Regions from separate parts of the Homo sapiens genome. Here region 1 is linked to region 2. Evidence: fine-mapped expression QTL. A gene starts in region 2. The other region holds a variant in brackets. All regions are shown on one strand. Distances are from middle to middle. Region 1 overlaps ZNF10 (zinc finger protein 10). Region 2 holds the start of ZNF10 (zinc finger protein 10).

Evidence for each region.
Region 1: its variant is fine-mapped to the expression of ZNF10 in thyroid (GTEx, PIP 0.95).

What each region holds. Positions count from the first base shown.
Region 1 is chr12:133,149,720-133,160,737 of GRCh38, reverse strand. It overlaps ZNF10 (zinc finger protein 10), which reads right to left. Exons shown (of 5, transcript NM_015394.5): 3 at 9,584-9,710; 4 at 8,834-8,929; 5 at 1,273-5,235. The coding sequence ends at 3,770. Among named protein-coding and RNA genes, the nearest start is that of ZNF10, 25 kb to the right of the region's middle. RefSeq lists enhancers at 694-863, 4,330-5,529. The variant G/A (reference allele first, on the strand shown) is at 6,824.
Region 2 is chr12:133,124,464-133,135,481 of GRCh38, reverse strand. ZNF10 (zinc finger protein 10) reads right to left here and starts at 4,855. Exons shown (of 5, transcript NM_015394.5): 1 at 4,728-4,855. It overlaps ZNF891 (zinc finger protein 891), which reads left to right and starts at 5,208. Exons shown (of 2, transcript NM_001277291.2): 1 at 5,208-5,255. It also overlaps the pseudogene RPL23AP67. RefSeq lists enhancers at 3,221-3,390, 4,473-4,752 and silencers at 4,803-5,042, 5,413-5,592.

The sequences.
Region 1 (11,018 bases), 25 kb before region 2:
CCTAATTGGTCACTGTTAGTCCAAGCTGCAACATTTTATAAACCCCCAACCATTTCACAGACCCTGGTCAAGGCGATTCTTCAGGGGCTTGGGCCATGAGAAACATCCTACCTAACCACCTGACAACAGGAACATCTTTATCAAATGCTGCCAGGCAGCAAGCCATACCACCCAGACCCCTTCCACCCAGACCTATAATTACCCCAGCCTGAAAGCAGCAGTGGGCTCCGGCACTAAGCTGGTCCCCTCTCTGCAGGTTTTTGCTGGCAATAAACCTGTGTTTCTGTTGAGCCACTCTCTCTTTAACCCTCACCTTTCCTTCAAAACCTAACTTTTTTTGTATCATTATAAATGGAACTGTATTTCCAATTTCATTTCCTAATTGGTCACTGCTAGCATATAGAAATAAAATTGATTTTTGTAACCTCATATCCTATGACCGTGCTAAATTCCTTTATTAAGGTTCTAGTAGCTTTTCTTTTTAACGGAAAACGAAGAGTCTCACTCTGTCACCCAGGCTAGAGTGCAGTGGTGCGATCCTGGCTCACTGCAATCTCCGCCTCCCGGGTTCAAGAGATTCTCCTGCCTCAGCCTCCCGAGTAGCTGGGATTACAGATGTGCGTCACCACACCCAGCTAATTTTTGTATTTTTAGTAGAGACAGGGTTTCACCATGTTGGCCAGGCTGGTCTTGAACTCCCAACCTCAGGTGATCCACCCGCCTCAGCCTCCCAAAGTGCTGGGATTACAGGCGTAAGCCACCGTGCTGGGCCTCTAGTAGCTTATTAATATGTATGAGCCCTCACACCCCTTTTTTGGAGACAGGGTCTCACCCTGTTGCCCAGGCTGGAGTGCAGTGCTGTGATAATTCACTGCAACCTCAAACTCTGGTCTCAAGTGGTCCTCCTGCCTCAGGGCCTTTTAAGTAGCTAGGACTATAGGTATGCACCACCACACCTAATTTTTAAACTTTCTGTAGAGACAGGGTCTCGCAATGTTGCCCAGGCTGGTCTTGAACTCAGTCAATCCTCCTCCCTCAGCCTCCCAAGTTGTTGGGATTATAAGCATGAGCTAACACACTGGGCCTTGGTATGAGCTTCTGAAGAAAAAAAAAATTCCATCACTGAGGAGATTGTTTTCCTAATTCTACAAGTAAGATATATTATTTCAGGAGGCTTTGGAAAGAACTGAAAAGTGTAAAAATAGAAAAGGAAACACCAATTTTCCCAATATATAGGCTAACTACTGTTAATATTTTGACAAATCTCCTTAGTTTTGGGCAACACTCATTTTTTACATTTATTTTGACATATTTGAGCTTATTCCATATTAACAATTATTTATCATGCTTTTGTAACACATGACAGCATTTTTCCTTTACCAAACTTTTTGTGTACATATTTTAATGCCTGCATAATCTTCCATTACACGGATATGCCACAAATATTATGCTAGTGTACATTTTTTATTTTGCAAATTATGCACTGTCATAAATATTTCAGTGATCATCCTCATACATATTTCTGTCTTCATTACAAGTTAGACCCTTAAGGTGTTAACAATAGTAATATTATTAATGGCACCTACTATGTGCCAGGCACTCTTTTATGTGATTCATACATATCATCTCAATCCACATGACAACGCTTTGAGGTAGATACTAGTAGTAACCTCATTATACAGTTGAGGAAATTGAGCCACAGGTTATTAGCAATGTTAAGAGCCCCAGTTAAGTGACTATTCTACTCCCTTAATGAAAACCATTTCTGATAGGTATGTTGTATGTGGGCATGGTGTGTACACAGTGAGAAGAGCAGCAGGAAACATGAAACCCAGGACCTAGTTCTGAGTCTGACTTCACTGAAAATGTGAGACCGGGGCCAATTCACTTGATCTCAATTGTACAACGACAAGTATGAGCTAGAGGCTGCCATGTTCCTCGTAGTTCTCAAGTCTCCTGATTCTAACCATCATTTCTAGGTTTTTTCCTCAGAGAGAGATCAAGATCTCTGGTTGGCTTCAGCAATACTTCATCTATCATTCAACAATCAATCATTGAGCAGCTAATATTTATGCCAGAAAATGGAGAATCATGGTCAGTCCCTATATACAACAGACTGATTTATAGAATGAAAGAGAAAATTAAAATAGATCCTCTTCCTGAATCTTTTGTGGGTTATTAACTTACCAGAGAATCTGAAGACTGGGATCCTCTCCATAGAATGGAAAACCTTTGTACAAACAGAATAAATGTGTATACAACATTACAAGCTGTTTATTGATCCTCAGAAATGAAACCTATATCCACTATTTGTCAGTGATTTTCCCAGGCTGTTGAGTTCTGATTTAGGCAAAAGGGAAAAACCATGTATGACTGTAAGGGAAGTGAGAACTCAGTAAATTCTTATAAGCACACAAGCAGATTTCAATTAAATAACAGATATTAGGGTGCGGCAATATTATTAATAATCACAGCCAGTAACTACAGAGAACATAATATATGTCAGGCACTATTCTAAGCTGTTTCCATTTACTCATTTAATACTCACCATAATCCTACCAGGTAAGTACTATTATTATCGCTAATTTACAGATGAGGATATCAGTAAGTTTGGCACAGAGAAGCTAAGCAGCATGTTCAAGATCACCCAGCTAGTGGGGTTTCAACCTGGGTAGTCTAGCTCAAGTCTACGCTCTTAAACACTAATCTTTCTTTATAAAGATAAAAGACTACCTTGAGAAAGAGGGTATCTTTGGACTGTGCTCTGTTTATCACATGAGGACACTTGCTCTAAATATTGTTTAAATACTTGTTCCCACTAAAATGGGGACCCTCCCTGATATGTTCAAATGCCCAATGTTCCCCTAGGTCCTAACATCCAGAGAATTACTGTGTTTTTAAATTCTCAGGAGCTTTTGCAGTGCTAATAAGAGTGGAAAAAGTGGAACTCTGTGACCCAAAACAATTTAGAATAGGAAAGCTCATTAACAGGTGGTACTCAAAAGCTTCTTTGATGGTAGAATAGAGAAACTAGATATCCTCTTACAATATTTAAAAGTTTCTTAAAATAATTATTACAGCAACATTAAACAGACTATAAAACTCAGTCAAAATCTCCTTATCTAACAAATCAATTCTGTTCAATTATCTGTATACTTTCAATTCTTGCCCACATGCAAATGTACTTAAAAATGGGTTAGCACTGGTAGTGGAGATGTGTTGTTTTTAATTGTACTACATTATAAGCATTTTTCTTGCTGTTAACCAAAATATGGTTTCTACCAGACACATAAAACATACCAAACACTACTAAATGTCCCAGAAGAGAGACATAGTCAAGAAAACAATGACATATTGACTGAAATATTATTTTCCATCTTTTGTTGCATTAACTGTATCATTTCTTAATTCTCAGCAACAACTCTCCCTATAGTAGCATACTCATTTCTTTTCAAATGAAGGGGTTCTCGCTCAACAACTCACCTATTTAATAATTCCTTCTCAGATTCTAGCATTTAAGACTTGGTCAAGAATGCTCTCAGGCCAATTACTTCTGTAGGAATTCATGAAAAGAAGAAAATCTGATGGATTTGTGTACTGAAATAAAATCTGTGGTTTCTTTCCCTTCCAGGACCAATTCTCTAATGTGCAATAGGATAGTAACAAGACTGAAAGCATTTCCACATAGATTCAATTTGTACAGCTTATCTCCAGGAGTTCTCCAATGCAAAATAAAGTCATTGCTCTTTGTGAAAAATTCCCATATTTATTAGTAAGCATTTTCTCTAATATGATTTGTCTGGTATCCAATAAGGTTAGAGGTATTAACAAGCGCTGTCCCACATTGATTGCATGTTAAGAACTGCTCTCCAGTGTGAGCTATTTGATGAACTATAAATGGAGAGTTCTGGCTGAAGATAATGCCACATTGATTACATTTATAGGTCTCTTCTCCAACATGAATTCTCTGGTGCTTAATGAGGTCATTCTTCCGGATGAAGGCTTTCCCACACTGACAGCATTCATATGGTTTCTCTCCAGTGTGTATCCTCTGATGCACAATAAGGGCAGAACTCTGGCTGAAAGATTTTCCACAATCATGACACTCATATGGTTTCTCTCCAGTGTGGGTTCTTTGATGTGAATAAAGGTGAGAGCTTCGACTAAAACATTTTCCACAATCCTTACACTCAAAAGGTTTTAGTCCAGTGTGAATTCTATGATGCACAACAAGGTGAGATCTCTGGCTGTAAGACTTTCCACATTCATTGCATTCATAGGGCCTCACTCTCACATGGGTTCTCTGATGCAGAATGAGATGTGTGCTCTGTCTGAAAGATTTCCCACATTCAGGACATTCATAGGGTTTCTCTCCAGTATGTGTCCTCTGGTGTCTAATAAGCCTAGAGCTATGAACAAAAGATTTCCCACACTGATTACATGTGTACAGTTTGTCTCCTGTATGAGTTCTCTGATGAGTAACAAGGTGAGAGAACCAGCTGAAGGATTTTCCACATTCTTTACATTCATAGGGTTCCTCACCAGTATGGGTCTTTTGATGTCCAATGAGGTGAGAACTCCGGCTGAAAGACTTTCCACATTCTTTACACTCATAGGGTTTTTCTCCAGTATGAATAAGCTGATGCCTAGTAAGATTAGAGCGCCAGCTGAAGAATTTTCCACATTCCTTACATTCATAGGGTTTCTCTCTATGTATGCCCTTTGATATACCAAGAGATGAACCATGAGTAAGAGAGTTGTCATTATCAGGGCATTTGTAGGATTTATCACCTGTGTGAGTTCTTGCAAACTGAATAAGGTGAATGTTTTGACAGAAAGTTTGACCACATTCATTACTGTTACTTGCACAACTGTCCTGATGACCATTAAGAACTAAATCATGTTTTAAACTTTTAGTATGTGAGTCACGTTTATGGAAATACTCTCTCAGTACTAGCTGAGCAGGAAGAAGACAGTTTCCCCCATATTTACCACTTTCAGAGACTCTCTCCTGAGTAAGTACTTTCTTTTGGGTGAATGCCACTTGCCTCAAATGTCTCTCTGGGTTTTCCTGATACTTGTCTAACTGGTCTCTACATTTCCAGACTTCTTCTAATGACAAATACCAGAGATCATTCCTTGCCATTCCTTCCATTTTAATGTCACAGGATTGCTTATCTTTAAAAATGCTCCTGCTGGAAACTGATGATTTGATTTCAAATGCAGTCTCTGAATCTGAAAGAAATGAAAAATGTTTGTGTAACTAAACAGAGTATTAAGGTGAGAATGCTAGGATGTATGTGGAGACAAAGTATGCAAGATGTACACAGTTGCTTTCAAATATGGCTTTATAACTTTGATAGAGAATGAGAAAAGGAAGAATGGAGCGGTAAACAATAAATGCATTGTGGTATACAGTACTCACAAAGGGCAAAAGGAGTAAGGAGAAGCCACAGGACACAGCATGACACATGGGATCAGGGTATCAATGGTGAGGGTAGAAATAAGGGAAATTCCATAAAAAGGACTGCACTCTCATTTTCTAATCCAGATATTAACAGTCTAAGTTCCTCACCTGTCTACTTGTTGTCAGGACTTTCCCCTGACACACATTCTTCACATTACTATCAATTTAGTATTCTCTCTCTTTTTTTTTTTTTTGAGACAGTTTCGCTCTTGTTGTCCAGGCTGGAGTGCAATGACACAATCTTGGCTCAATGCAACCTCCGCCTCCCAGGTTCAAATGATTCTCCTGCCTCAGCCTCCCAAGTAGCTGGGATTACAGGCACCTGCCACCATGCCTGGTTAATTTTTAATATTTTTAGCAGAGACAGGGTTTCACTATGTTGGCCAGGCTGGTCTTGAACTCCTGACTTCAGGTGATCCACCCGCCTTAGCCTCCCAAAGTGCTGGGATTATAGGCGTGAGCCAGTGCGTCCGGCCCAATTTAGTATTCTTAAACCATGAATGCAGCCATACGTCAGGCAATGCTTTCTATCCAAATCACAGAAGCACTATAGAATAACACCCAGATGAGTGACACAACAGACCTCTCAGAGCAGCTACATGACAAGGTGGAAGAGTAACTGCACAAAAGTTACCAAGATGCAAGTTCTAAGTTTTATATTACGACTAGTGGTGAATTTAGACGAGTTGCTAAACTTTGAAGAATTCATTTTGCTTATCTGTAATCTAAGGATGACAGTATTTGTTATTTAAGATTATTATATTATATAAAGCATGAGCCTATTACAGTCTCTGGCACATTTATGGTCAAAGCAATAAGATTTACAATAATCATCATCATTCTTCTCATTTTTTTGATTTCTTCGCTCTGAAACATAAGGACTTAACAACTGATAGGACTACTACCACAAGATGTGAACTTAGAATCTGAAGCCTGACCCATACGCTCTTAGAATTTCTGCCATCTGCTACCTGTGTATATTACTGCAAATTATTTCTCTTGAATAAGAGCTTTATCTGTTTCTCAATGTCTTTCAGGTAAAACATATAATCCCAAACCTAAAAAATACACTGATGATACCACTTCATCTTACATAAGTGGGGTGACATTCCACTCTTACCTGGTATTATGGGTTAAACTGTATCCCCCCCGCCGACAAAAAGGTATGTTGAAGTTTTAATCCTCAGTATCTCAGAATATGACCATATTTGGAAATACAGTCTTTCCAGATGTAATTAGTTATGATGAGGTAGTACCAGAAATAGGATGGGCCCCTAATCCAGTATGAGGGTGGTCCTCCATAAAAAAGACACAGACACAGGGGAAGAGACCATGTGAACATGGAGACCAAGACTG[G/A]AATGATATATCCACAAGCCAAGGAACACCTGGGGCCAGCAGAGCCTGGAAGAGATAAGGAAAGACCCTCTCCTAGAAGCGTAGCAGAGCCCCACTGACATCTTCATTTTAGACTTAACAGCCTCCAGCTGTGACATGATACATTTTGGTTGTTTTGAGCCACCTAACTGCTGGTTCTTTGTTACCGCAGCCCCAGGAAACTAATACACCTGGTAAATGATCCCTGTGCCAGGCCTGGTCCCTAAATGACTTCCTTATACAATCCCACCCCGACCAGTCCTGTCCCTTACCACTTAGTTAGTTCCTAGTTTCTTCCCCATCCTGATGATTTTTAATAGGAAATACACCACCCTTTCCTCCCTTTCCCCAACCCAGAACATCAGAAAATCTTATGGAGAAGTTTTTCAACCTACAAATGCCAACTGGAAGATTCTATGAAGAATATCTATGATAAGGGGGGTGCTGAGCACTTATGGAGGACAATTCTGAGTGGAGAGTTTGGTCATAAGAATGAGGTGTTTTATTAATATCCTAAAATCTTCCACATATTATGTAATACAACCATGCCAGTAAGTTATTGTCGAAGTCTGTTGGACCCATCAATCAACTAATCATCTGATTTTTAAAAATCATCATTCATTATATTTTTTGATTTGATAATGAATTTAACAGCCTTGTAGATTCTGTAAAACTCCATGCCTTTAAGCCCATGAAGTCTGAGTATTTCTTTTGACAATAAATTCTCAATAAAAATATAAACTGCTGGGTCCAGTTAATAATTGTTATTTTTGGATACTTGTCAACAGACATTCAGGAAAGCTTACTAGATGAACAAAATAGAAAAGAAAGAAAGAAGGTAAGTAATAAAAAGAAAATATAACAATATTTCCTCCCATGGTCCCAAAGAAAGACTTGCTTTGAGATACCATTTTGATACAATCACCTACAAGGCAAATACTAAAAAGTAAAAAAGAGCTTATGATAATATTTCAAAGTAGAGATTTAAACTAAGTGGAAGTTCAGAAGAGGAAGAGGCCAATACTTAATGAGGAATCATAAAAGCCTTCATGGGAAAGAACTTGAGGCTAAATTACAGGACAAGTAAGACTCAGATTTAATTTACATCACACTCAAAGTCTGAGATGCAGGGAAATGCCTATAAATAAATTTTTAAAACATTAAATACAAAACTAGATAGAGGCTGGGCATGGTGGCTCACGCCTGTAATCCCAGCACTTTGGAAGGCCGAGGTGGGCGGATCACTTGAGGTCAGGAGTTCGAGACCAGCCTAGCCAACATGGTAAAACCCTATCTCTCCTAAAAATACAAAAATTAGCTGGGCGTGGTGGTGCATGCCTGTAATTCCTGGTTCTTTGGGAGGCTAAGGCGGAAGAATCGCTTAAACCTGGGAGGCGGAGGTTGCAGTGAGCCTAGATCGCGCCACTACACTCCAGCCTGGGAGACTGAGTGAAACTCCATCTCGAAAAGAAAAAAAGATCTAAAGTACAGTAGGAAAAACTGGTGTTTCTGTGAGCAGCCATTCTGGAAAGGAAGGAGAGTTGAGGCAACAGGAATTATGAGCTCTCTGCAGCAGTTTTCTACCTGGCAGAAAACAAACTCTCAGAAAAGAAGGTGATAAGAGTCCCACTCCAGAGCTTGCACAGAGAACTGAGTTGTGGGAAGGGGTCACATGAAAGAACAAAGAGAGGCAAAAATGCAAGAAGTGATTCTATGACAAACGAAAGCACAAGATGCTAGAGTGAGTGGTAACAATTAGGAGAGCGACACGTGCAAGCGCTGAAACCAAGCACGTCAACAGACAGAGAAACCTTTGCCTCTGAATGCAAATGGAATGTAAAGACTGGCAGTGGGGAAACAGGGGCCAGATAAACTCAGTCTTCCCAGGAAGAAGGGCCTGTGAGGAGGGCCAGTGACCACTATCTCTAGAAGTTCTGGCACCTCACAGCCCATCTGGGCTGCTGCCTATGACAACTCTTGACTGGTCCTCACCAGGATGGGTCTCTTGGTGAATTTCTCTCTCCACCAGCCAGGGCTCTTCTCCCTTCTCCAACCGGAGGATCACATCTGGCTTAGTAAGCTGATAACCTGTTCACAGTGAAAGACAAAGAACAGGGTAAGAGTCAGGGGAGCTCTGAGGTAGGCACGAAGAAACATCTCAGATTCAACCTGACCACCAACCCTCTGCAGGACTGGCAGGGACTCTAAAGTTGACAGAGGCAGGAAAACTTATTTTATTTTATTTATTTATTTTGAGATGGAGTCTCTCTCTGTTGCCAGGCTGGAGTGCAGTGGCATAATCTTGGCTCACTGCAACCTCCACTTCCGGGGTTCAAGTGATTCTCCTGCCTCAGCCTCCCAAGTAGCTGGGACTATAGGAGCACGCCACCACGCCCAGCTAATTTTTGTATTTTTAGTAGAGACGGGGTTTCACCATGTTGGTCAGGATGGTCTCAATCTCTTGACCTTGTGATCTGCTCACCTCGGCCTCCCAAAGTGCTGGAATTACAGGCGTGAGCCACCATGCCCAGCCAGAAAACTCCTTAAAGAGGCATTTTTAAAACTTCAATACATTAAAACAAGTTTTCCACAAAAGCTGGAGTAAAAAAACCCTGTTCTATGCCTCAAAGAAATTAGGTCTCTGAACGCCAAGCCTATACTCTGGTGTGATACATGCTTCAGGGTCTCTGTACCTTTTGATCAATGGAGAACCAAAATCTTCAAAAACAGAGCTAGTCTTACCCAAGGAAACCAGGTTCTTATAGTTCTCCAGCATCACATTTCTGTACACGATCTGCTGAGCAGTGTCCAGCAGCTTCCACTCCTCCCTGGTGAAGTCCACAAATACATCCTTGAAGGTCACCAGTGTCTACAACATCAAACACATTTGCATTGCACCAGATATGCATCTTTGCTATCCCCCTTTCCTGATCGCTAACAGGAAGAGAAATTAAGCTGACAGCACTGGGGCAGGTAAAGTGGATGGACCACAATTTATTCTAGGAGTGAGTAGTATTTATTCTAGTCAAGTCTTAAAAGGAATGGCTATTAGGTACCTACTGTCTGAAAACAAGTTTTATGTGATGCTTTAGGTTAAAGAAAACTGTCATAAGCATTTTTATTTAAATTAAATTTTAAACAGCTATGGCAGGGGGAATCATCCATTCTCCAAAAAAGTTAACCCACTTTTATACTACGTAAATAAAGAACCTAATTCAAGTACACCTTAATGCTTAAGAGATTTACCACCCTAGCCATGTTTTATAACCTAAAATAATTATCCAAAACATTTTTCATGACTATTGGTAGGTACTAAAAAAAAAAAAAACAGAAGAGTTGGGAGATTATATTTTAGCAGTAGCAAAACAATTTGACAAAGAAACAGGAGACAGATGCAAGGCCCTTATCAGCCACATCAAAAATAAGTGTTGATTGTATCTAGAGAAAAACCTATTTGAGTGACTGAGGGTCTCTCATCAAAGACCATAAAGGTCAGAAGACAGTGGAATAATGTTTGTTTGTTTTTAAATGTTGAAAGAACAGACAAACCAGAATTTCTACGTCCAGTGAAAATATCTTTCAAAAATGATGCAAAATTAAGATATTCTCAAATGAACTAAAACTAACAGAATTTGTTGCCCGAAGTTCTGCTCTAGAAGATGTGCTGAAGGAAGTTCTTCAGGCAGAAGGGAAATGATACCAGAGAGAAACCTGAAATCTCAGAAAAGGAAGATAAATAACAAAAACAGTAGATATCTGGGTAAATATAACAGATTTGTTTTCTTCTCTGAAATTTTTCAAAAATATACAGAACAGTTGAAAGAAAGACCTGTAACATTTTCCGGTGCAGTTTTTCAACGTACACACAACTTTAACAAAAAGGGAGGAATGTAAAGGGACCCACATGTTGTAAGGCTTCTAGATTTTGCTTGAAGTAGTAAAAATTAACTCTAAGTGGACTGTAAAAGATTAGATATGTATATTCTAATCCCTACAGCAAGTATTAAAAAATACAAAAATATAAAGCTGAAAAACCAAGACATTAAGTGAAATACTAAAATATATTCAAATAATCCAAATAAAGGCAGTAAATTAAGAAGGGGGAAAAGATATACAGAGAACATATAATAAAATAACACACTTAAATCCAATTGTATTAATTAATAACATTAAACAA
Region 2 (11,018 bases):
CTCATATAACGAAGTCCTGGAACACTGCGATGCCACAGAGGAAAGCTGTTTCAAATCCTCTGCCTGATGATGTCCAGCATTATTTATTTCCTGTTTTGGCTGCAGCAGCATAATGGATCTTGGTATTCAGGGAGCATTGAGTGCCCTTTCCCCAGCTCACAGTGCAGAGTTTGGAGCCCAACTTACTATTTGGTCACTGCTGTGTAAGAACAAAAGATGAGAGGTAGTCTGGATGCTCTGAGATCCAATAATCTTCCCAGTAAGACAAGGCAGACCCATGAAAGGCAAAAGACAATTCTATATGCGCACACTAAGATCAAAAGGCATTTCAGGTAGCTATCAAGAGTGACTGAGCGTCCCCTACCTGAGAAGCTCTTTTTAAGATGTTAGGAACACAACTATGAGAATAATTTCCCTCCCTCAAGCAGATTGTAACCATGGAAGGATGTTAAAAGTCTAGTACCACAGACATGAAGAGAATGGAGAAAGGAAATGTGGCTGGGGAAATCTGCAAAACTTCCTGGGGAAGGAAAAACTGGAACAACGATGAGAAAAGGTCCAATGTTAGGAGTTAGAAAGCACAGCAACAGCCATTCCACAATGTGAGCTTTACATTTGCAAAGAGATTTTTCTTCCCACCTCCAAATGGTAAAATCTCCTAGAAGACTATATAATTCTATTTGTGAACATAAATGTTACAATAAAGTCTATATTTTCTACCAGAGTGGTCACAAAAAATATTTATAATCACTCCATTTTTCTTCTGAGGCAAAGTCAAAACATAGTGCCAGAGAAAGGGAGACTATTTTTATTTTGGTAAACTCTTAAGGACAGAGGGCTATATTAGTTTTCCATTGCTGCCAATTATCAAAACTTTGTGGTTTTCAACAACACACATTTGTTACATAACAATTCTGGAGGTCAGAAGTCTGATACAGGTTTCGGAGGGCTAAAATTAAGGTGTTGGCAGAGCTGTGTTCCTTCTGGAGGCTCTAGAGAAGAATCTATTTCCTTGCCCCCGTCCAGTGTCTAGGACCATCTACACTCCTTGGCTCCTGACCCTTCCTCCACCTGCAAGGCCAGCAATGATACATTTCTCTGTGCCTTTCTTTCATGGTTATATTTCCCTGATTGCTAACCTTCTTATCCCCCTTTTACTTTTTTTTTTTGAGAGGGAGTCTTGCTCTGTTGCCCAGGCTGGAGTGCAGTGAAGCAATCTCGGCTCATTGCAACCGCCGCCTCTTGGGTTCAAGTGATTCTCCTGCCACAGCCTCCCATATAGCTGGGATTACAGGCGCCCACCACCACACTCAGCTAATTTTTTTTTTTTTTTTTTTGTATTTTTAGTAGCGACAGGGTTTCACCAAGTTGGCCAGGCTGGTCTCGAACTCCTGACCTCAGGTGATCTCCCCACCTTGGCCTCCCAAAGTGCTGGGATTACAGGCGTGAGCCACCGTGCCCGGCCACCCAGCTCTTTTACTTTTAAGGACCCCTGTTATTACACTAAGCCCACTGAAATAATCCAGGATAATCTCTCCCCATCTTGAGATCCTTCATTGAATCACAACTGCAAATTTTATTTTGCAGTATAAGGTAAAATATTCCCAGGTGCTGGGGATATCTCTGGGGAGCCATTATTTTGGCTGCCACAAGGGCAGAGATGGGCTGAAAAGAAGCTCCAAGTATCGGCAAGAAGGCTATGAAAGTTACTATTTGAGGCACACGCAGTTCCAAAGCACAGCTCCAATCAAACACTTAGCGTACAAGTTTCACAACAACGTTCTGGACCCTTTTCAACTTAACTCCCACTACACTTGCCCCATATTCTCTAAGGATCACTTTAATGCCATCTATGCTGTGACGCCTTCCCACTATCTCAGAGAGGATCAGTGGTTCTATCATCCGTAAACATGAAGGACTCTGCCCATGCCCTATTCCAGCACTTCAACGCTGCCTTACGGTACCAAGATTTGTCTGTCTCCCTTATGAGATAGTGAACCACTTAAGAATTAGGACAATCTCATTCTAAATCCTGGGAAGAGGCTAGCAAAGTGCTTAGCACTTCATATTCATTCACTCTGACATGTGACTATACTTAACCAGCACTCACATTGACAGGTACAACCTCGTCAGGAACCGCATTTCACTTGGGGACATGGAGTACATGTTCATTAATAAAGAGAACAGGGTCTCTTCAAGTTCTGAATAGGTTTACCAGTATTTGCTTCAGCAAAGGGCAAGGTATGATCAGCAAAAAGGACCCAGCAGCCACAAAGTTAAAACTCGGTAACCAATAGACATGGCAAAGATATACTTAAAGATACAAAAGGCAAAGATCCTGCATCTGTCAAAACTCAGCAAATGTACACTTAAGATTTGCGCTTTTCATGTTATGTAAATTTTACATCTAAAGAAAAATCTAAACAAATATAGAATTCTAATTAATAATACATACGTATTCTGAAATTTTTAAGGAATACGTACCCATGTCAATTTACTTTGAAAAAAATTTAAAAATACAATGAACTGATGGATAAAAAGAGGGACAGATGGGTATGTGTTAAAATTAGGTACAGTAAAATATTAATGGTAGAGTCTAGATGGGAAGGTTTATAAGTATTCACTGTAAACTTCTTTTAATTTAGCTGTATGCTCAAAATTCTTCATAATAAAATTTTGAACAGGAAATGTTAGGATCAGTCAGCAAGGAGATATTGTGTGGAAAGAGGAAAAAATAATGCTCTTGGATGTTCATTACGAGTCAAAGAGGCACATACACAGACAAAGGTGGCCTATATCATATCTTGTCCCAACCTTGCTTCATAGCCAGAAGAATTAAAAGCCCTGGCTGACATGAGACATGCTAGAAAGAGTACTGCTGATGAAAGTAAAAGAGTCTCTTGTAGGCACAACAGAGATATTAACAATAAGAAATTTCTTTTTCCTTAAAATACTTTTTTTTTGAGACGGAGTTTCGCTCTTGTTGCTCTTGTTAATTTAAGATGTGTATCTCAAATCTCTGCCCTTGTGACTGGCATATGTTAATTAGCTGGGCATGGTGGCTGGCGCCTGTAATCCCAGCTACTAGGGAGGTTGAGGCAGGAGAATTGCTTGAACCCAGGAGGCAGAGGTTGCAGTGAGCCAAGATCGAGCCATTGCACTCCAGCATGGGCAACAAGAACAAAACTCTATCTCAAAAAAAAAAAAAAAAATTCTCAGATTTTCTTGACAATTGAATATAATCTATAAACAGAACTGTTTTTATTCTTACTCATCCTTTATTCTTCTAGTAAGAATTGCCTAGTAAGGTTTTGAAGTTTTTCTCATATAGTTCACATATATTTCTAGCTAAAATTATTTTCTTCCTATTGTGAAGACTTTTTAAAAATAAAAGTATGTGCTAACTTGTTGAGGACGGCAATCAATCTATTAGCTTATATATTTCCTTTTCAGTCACTTTACTACAAATTATTGATAGTAATTGAATCTCTTCTCATTTTGGGGACTTAATTAGTTAATTAATTAACAAGGATAATTTTGTAATCTCTTTTCCAGAAGGTAAGCCTCATATCTACTTAAATATTGTCCTAAGTAGAATTTCCAGACAGTGCTTATATAAAATACTGATAAGCAGAAATTCTCATTTAATTTATGATGTGTATCTCAAATCTCTGCCCTTGTGACTAGCATATACTAAGAGCTAAAGAAATGCATGCTGAGAGAAGTAATCAAAAAACAAATGTAACTTTCAAAAAGAGGCAGGAGCGTGTGCAACTTACCATCCAAGAGGCTTTGGAAGATGGGGGACAATTTTAGTAAAACAGAAGAGATTAGTTATGTCACAAGAGAAAAGTTAGTGTGGAGGTAATTTTCAAAAGGGTAGGGAGGATTTGTGCTATCCAGTTCTCGGAGACCTAACTGCAGTCATTTCTAACCTAATAACACTTGTTGGCTGGCATTCTGGGTGACATCCTGCCTTCCCTTTTACTTTTTTTTTTTTAATTAACAGTATCTTTCTGCAATTAATGTATAGCTGGAATTGAAATTGTTCACCTTCTGCATACACTTTGGGTGGGATCTACGTACGAAATCTTGATGTTAACCTTATCTTTGACACTCATATTATGTGTTAGATGGCGTATATATATCTAGTGTCAAGGGAAAATAAAAATATAGTAATTAAACTTATGATCTGTCTCTGAAAATAAAAAAAATAGATTAACCACACAAACACGCCTTCAGTTAATCTATCTGATTAAAAAACAAAACAAAGATGAGGAAGCTAAGAGCTAGAGATGCAGGATTTGTTTTTAAAAGACCACACACGAATCGGCGTCACTATTTCAACAAATACTAGAAAGGCCATATGCAAAATTTTAAACATCTATCCCAGCTGGGGGGAAAAATGGAAGTTAGACTAGAAGAAACCTTATTTTGTATTACTGAAAATATCTGGTTCAAACTTACCACCACCGCCGCCCACTCTGCGTCAATCTCCAGGTGCAGCCGTTATTCTCCACAGAACAAGAACGTCCGCCGTGAACGCCGGGGCCGCGCGAGGGACAGAAAGTGACTGAGGCAAGGGGTGACGATCACCGTTAAATTTTTTCATTGACGAAATTACCGTCTACCTAGAAATACGAAGCTAATACACTGCTACATTACTAAAGGGCTCAACACGCGCCTGATGACGATGCAAACACAAAATTCAGCACTTTCGTATATACCTGCAATAAGCAACTAGAAGGTTCGATGGGAGAAAGCGATCCCGTCACAAAGGCAGCAGCAACAGCAAAACAGAGAACGCGACTCCATTCACCAGCGGAGCGCGAAGAGCGGCGTCAGAGGTGAGTCTGAGGCCGGCTCGGCACGGCGGCGCCACCTCCCCGTGGCCTGACGTCACGCACGCGCACGCGCCCCGCCCCCATTGGTCCTACGCCCGCCCCTGCTGCGAACGCACGCACACGCACCCACAACACACACCGTTACGCACGCGCCCCAGCCTGGCGTTCAGGCCACGCTCCGCCCCCAGCCCGTCAGCCGCGCGCCCCGGGACCCTAGAGCCGGCGATTCGTCGCCGGCGCCGCAGCCGCCACTCTGTGCCGGACCCTGCGGGCCTTCGGCCCAGAGCGCGTCCGTGACGCACAGACCAGGCCCCTCTGCGGGGCGGCGCAGGAGCTCCTGGGAAACGTAGTTCGGCCTCGCGTCCCCCTCGGGCGGGACCGCGGACGCCTGGAGGCAGGCACTGAGGACGGGTGAGCATGCGGGCCTGTGGCTCGTTCACCCGGGACAAGTCCCTCGTGGGATCAGCCTGGCCCGCTGAGTTCTCCTGCGTGCAGGGATCGCCTCACGGGAGTCTGAGCAGCAGGGAGCCTGCCCGGGAGGCGGCGGTGGGAGAGGCCCTTGAGGGAGGAGGGGCTACTTACCGGGTGCGAGTGGAGCGCGGGGAGCGAGTGGGGACCAGGGGCGCGCGGGGCGGAGGGGTCCCGGGCTGGCTGCGGGTGCCACGCAGGGAGCGCTGGGGGGCCGGGGATGCGCGTTTGCCTCCTTCTCTAAGCAACACGGGAGGGCTAAAGGGTGCACGCCTCTGTCCAGCAGCCTCTCTTGAATCTCTAAACCTAGTAATGAGTTGAATCACAGCCATCGTTTTTTTCACCTATTGCCTTATACTGTGGTTGAATGCGATATGGTTTTATTTCTTTAATACTCTGGTGTATTCAATTGGCTGTTTCCCTTTGACTTCACCTATGCTCACAAGATTGTGTTTTAATCTTTTTGTGTACTATCCTTGCCCGTTATACTAACAAGATTTTACAAGCTTCATGAATAATTTGGACAGCACAGTCTCTCTTCTATTCTGTAAAACAGGTCACCACCCCTCACCGCCCCCCGCCCGCCTCCAAAAGTTTGGTGCTATTTGGTCTTAAAATATTTAGTACGCATTTAACTTCTGACTCAATTTTTTTTTTTTTTTTTTTTGAGACAGAGTTTCGCTCTTTGTTGCCCAGGCTGGAGTGCAATGGCGCCATCTTGGCTCACAGCAACCTCCGCCTCCCGGGTTCAAGTGATTCTTCTGCCTCAGTCTTGTGAGTTGCCGGGATTACAGACATGAGCCACCACGCCCAGCTAATTCTGTATTTTTAGTGGAGATGGGGTTTCTCCATGTTGGTCAGGCTGGTCTGGAACTCCCGACCTCAGGTGATCAGCCTGCCTCGGCCTCCCAAAGCGCTGAGATTACAAGCGTGAGCCACCGCACCCGGCCCTGACTCAATTTTTTAAAAAGTCTCATTGATTAGGTTTTTTAGTTCGTATTCTGTTTTAGATACCTTTCCTAGATAATTGTTTTTAATCTAATTTTTCAAATTTATTGGCATAAAATTGCCCATGCTATTTTATCACTGTAAGTAATTTCTATGGTGATTTTTAAAATCACCACTTTTTAATATTTTACTGCTGTAATTGTTATTTTTTTCTTTTTTGAACCTAATTATCTAGGCCTTTTTTTCTTGATTACTCCTATAAGGTATATGTGTACATAGTCTTTTCAAAAATGTAGATTTGGTTTTGGTTTTTTTGTTGTTTTGTTTTGGTCTTTTTTGGGGAGGGGGGTCCTATTACAGTAAGTTTTGCTCTTAATTTTTAAATTTTTCTTTTACTTTGTCTCTGTTTTTCTACTTTTTTTTTTTTTTCGAGACAGAGTTTCACTCTGTCTCCAGGCTGGAGTGCAGTGGCGTGATCTCGGCTCACTGTAGCCTCTACCACCCGGATTCAAGCGATTCTCCTGCCTCAGGCCCCACCACGCCCGGCTAATCCAGCTAATTTTTGTTTTTGTTTGTTTGTTTGTTTTTGAGACAGAGTCTCTCTCTCTCGCCCAGGCGGGAATGCAATGGCAGGATCTCTGCTCACTGCAACTTCCACATCCCGGGTTCAAGCCATTCTCCTGCCTCAGCCTCTGGAATAGCTGGGATCACAGGCGCACACTGCCATGCCCGGTTAATTTTTTGTATTTTTTAGTAGAGACGGGGTTTCACGGTGTTGCCCAGGCTGGTCTCGAACTCTTCAGCTCAGGCAATCCGCCCGCCTTGGCCTCCCAAAGTGCTAGGATTACAGGCGTGAGCCACCGTGCCTGGCCATCTGCTTCTTGATTTGACTGGGTAATTAATTTACTACTCTTTATTTGTGCTCCAAGAAATGTGTGTGTACATTTTTAAGAGCTGAATATGTTAAAAGACTCATAATAAAAACAGGAAACACCTTAACCCCATCTCTTCCCAGTGGCAACCACTTGGAAATATTTAAGCAGTTCTGGCTTCGAACTCCTCTCAGTATTTTTTTATTCACCGATTTGTGACATTATTTTAAAATTTTTATCATGTTAAATAAGAACTTTGGCTGCCTTCTTTCTACATCCTTAAATCACAATGTAATTATTTTACAAATATTATAATGTAGTTCTCCCACAAATTTTGGATAAATATGTTCAGTGTTTTCATTTGATGACTACTCTTTAGTACTGAGCCATAATATGTTTCTTTCTTGTGCAAGGTTTACCTTTCTTGTTTTTAATGACTGCCTTTTTTATTCATTTGCTTAGTTTTTCTTAAATCTATGTAAAATGTCTTTTGGTTCCATTTTCCTCAAGGGCTAATCTGTCATACAGTCTTATCACTTTTCTCCTTTCCTGGACATCCCCCTGCAATGTAGATTGATCAGTTACTCTGTAGGCATGCAGCACGCTGGCATACCACTGGGCTTCCCTTTTGCCCTCATCAATTTCCTCATCTCACCTCTGTGTTAAATCTCCTGTTTCCTGTAAAGCACTTCTATTCCTGTTTGGTGGATTGTAATCTTAACTGCCTTGAAGAAAGGGTCCATATGATCTACATATATTAAAGTTGTAGAAATGATTAGAAATTACTTTTTCCTCACATTTGTGTGGTGTTTTCACCGAGTATACACATCTCAATAGGAAATTACTTTCCATTAGAATTTTGAAAGCCAGTGAAGCTAGATAGGAAATGGAGCAGTGTTACTGTTACTGTTGAGAAGTCCTATTTCATACCTTGTTCTTTTATGTGTAATCTGTTTATCATCTCTTGGAGCTCTTTGGTATTCAAAAATTTCATGATGATGTGTGTTCTAATTATTTAAAGAAATTACTTGCTTTGATGGATCAGTTCTTAGATACTGTGTTTTTTTAAGGAATAAGAAGTTTCTGGCCGGGCACCGTGGCTCACGCCTGTAATCCCAACATTTTGGGAGGCCGAGGTGGGTGGATCATGAGGTCAGGAGTTCAAGACCAGGCTGGCCAAGATGGTGAAACCCCATCTCTACTACTAAAAATAAGAAAATTAGCCGGGCGTGGTGGCCGGCGCCTGTAATCCCAGCTACTTCGGAGGCTGAGGCAGAGAATTGCTTAAACCCGGGAGGCAGAGGTTTCAGTGAGCCGAGATTGTGCCACTGCACTCCAGCTTGGGCGACTCCGTCTCAAAAAAAAAAAAAAAAAAAAAAAGTTTTCCTGTACTTGTTTGTTTCTTCCTCTTGTTTTTTCTTTCTGGAACTCTGAGTAATCTGGGGTACCTTAAATTGCTCATATAGTGGTCTTTTTTTATTTATTCTTACTTTTTCTTTTAGATCAGCTTTACTTATTTATTCATTTATTTATTGAAACAGAGTCTCACTGTGTTGCCCAGGCTGGAGTGCAGTGGCACATCTCGGCTCACTGCAGCCTCCACCTCTTGGGTTCAAGCATTTCTCCTGCTTCAGCCTCCCGAGTAGCTGGGATTACAGGTGTGCACCAACACATCTAGCTTTTTTTTTTTTTTGTATTTTTATTTGAGACGGGGTTTCACTGTGTTGGCCAGGCTGGTCTTAGAATTCTGACCTGAAGTGATTCGCCTACCTCGGCTCCCAAAGTGCTGGATTACAGGCGTAAGCCACTGTGTTCAGCCAAGATCAGCTTTCTAGAAAAGTTCCTTAAGTTTATCTTTTTTTTTTTTTTTTTTTTTGAGACGGAGTCTCGCTTTGTTGCCCAGGCTGGAGTGCAGTGGTACGACCTCGGCTCACTGCAAGCTCCACCTTCCAGGTTCATGCCATTCTCCTGCCTCACACTCCCGTGTAGCTGGGACTACAGGCACCCACCACCACGCCCGGCTAATTTTTTATATTTTTAGTAGAGATGGGGTTTCACAGTAGCCAGGATGGTCTCGATCTCCTGACCTCATGATCCACCCGCCTCAGTACTGGGATTTCAGGCATGAGCCTCCGTGCCCGGCCCTAAGTTTATCTTTTAACCCTTGTACCTTTTTGGGGAGTTTTTAAATTATAATTTTTAACTTCCTGGGAAATTAAAAAAAATCCATAGAGTTGTATTCTTATTTCATAGAGGAAATATCTCTCTGATTATTTTTCAAATTATGAAGTTTTCAAACACATACACAAATATAGTAGTACAGTGTACCAATCATCCTATTTTATTTTTTCCTGATGAGAAGATGTACATATTTAGAATTAGCCAGCTGGACTCAGTTTAGATTATTCAGTTTTGTTGGCAACATCCAGAGCATGGGAACCAGGAGCCAGTCAAACATATGCCTTCTTCTCTCCATCAGGCCTGATCAAGGTGTTGACCTTGGCCACATCAGTGTCATAGAGCTTCTTCACAAGCCTGTGAGGAGGGCATGTTGACCTGGTGCTTGTTGGCTTTAAGATCCACAGTGAGCACAAGTGTGTTACCTTCTATCCTCTTCATGGCAGACTCAGTAGGAATTTGATGATAGCATGGTGGTCAATCTTGTTTCTCCTGAGGGTGCTCTTCTGAAGATACGTGGGCTGCCTCCAGAGCCTCAGTGTCTTGGGCTGCTAGAAGATGGGTGACATGCGGATCTTCTTTTTTTTTGTTGCTGTGAATACCTTTCACCACTGCCTTTTTGACCTTCAAAGCCTTTGCTTTGGCTTTAGCCATAGGAGAGACAGGAGTTTCCTTCTTCGCCATCAGTGCCATCTTGTGAAAAAGGCCCCATTGTTCTATTTTGAAGCAAATCTTGGACATTATATATTATTTGCAAATATTTCAGAATGCATCTCTGAATGATAAGTACTCCTTTTTAAGTAGGATAGTCTCACACCTGCAAAATTTGTAATTCCTTTATATCAAATTTATAGGCAAAAGCCAAGGGATGGGGTGGGGAGGGTATGCCTGTAGTCCCAGCCATTCAGGAGGCCAGAGGCTAAGGTGGAGGATCACTTAAGCCAGGATTTCAAGGTTAGCCTGGCCAATATAGTGACACCCTGTCTCTAAAAAATAAGTAACTAATGTATAGGCAGTGTTCAGATTTTTCCGTTTTCTCGTGAATTTTTAAAATTCATTTCTTTGACTCATGGTCCAGATAATGTTTATACAATTTGAAGTCTGTATGGTTTTTCCATAGAAAAATTATGTCTCCATATTGTTTTAATTCCAATATCCCTTGCTGTGTGCTCTTTTGAATATGCTGTTGTTGCTTTGAAGTTTGTTGTTTTCTGTTTCTTACATTGTTTCCTCTGAATTCCTTCTTTGCTTTTGTTTTACTCCTACACCCCTCTGCTTTCTTCTGAGTTCAGCTTACATCCTTTTAGTAGTTCCTTCAGGAACTATCTTGAGTGGTTAACACACACACCCATATAGAACACCCATATAAAACAACAACAACCTAGAATTCAATCGTATGCTAAAGACTGAGAGCAATATAAAAGGCCTTTTATATTGCTCTCAGTCTTTAGCATACGATTGAATTCTAGGTTGTTGTTGTTTTCCTTTAGTACTTTGAAGATATTATTTTATTGCCTTTTTGGCCTCTATCTTTGCAACTGAGAAGTCTGTAGTCAGTATAATTGATATTCCCTTGTAGATAATTAGCCTTTTTTCTTCGGTAACTTTAAAGTTTTACACATTATTCTTGATATTCTAGTTTACCTTCAGTGTAGCTGGTAGCTGATGTATTTTTAAAATGTATTCTACATGGCACATGGTATATAGG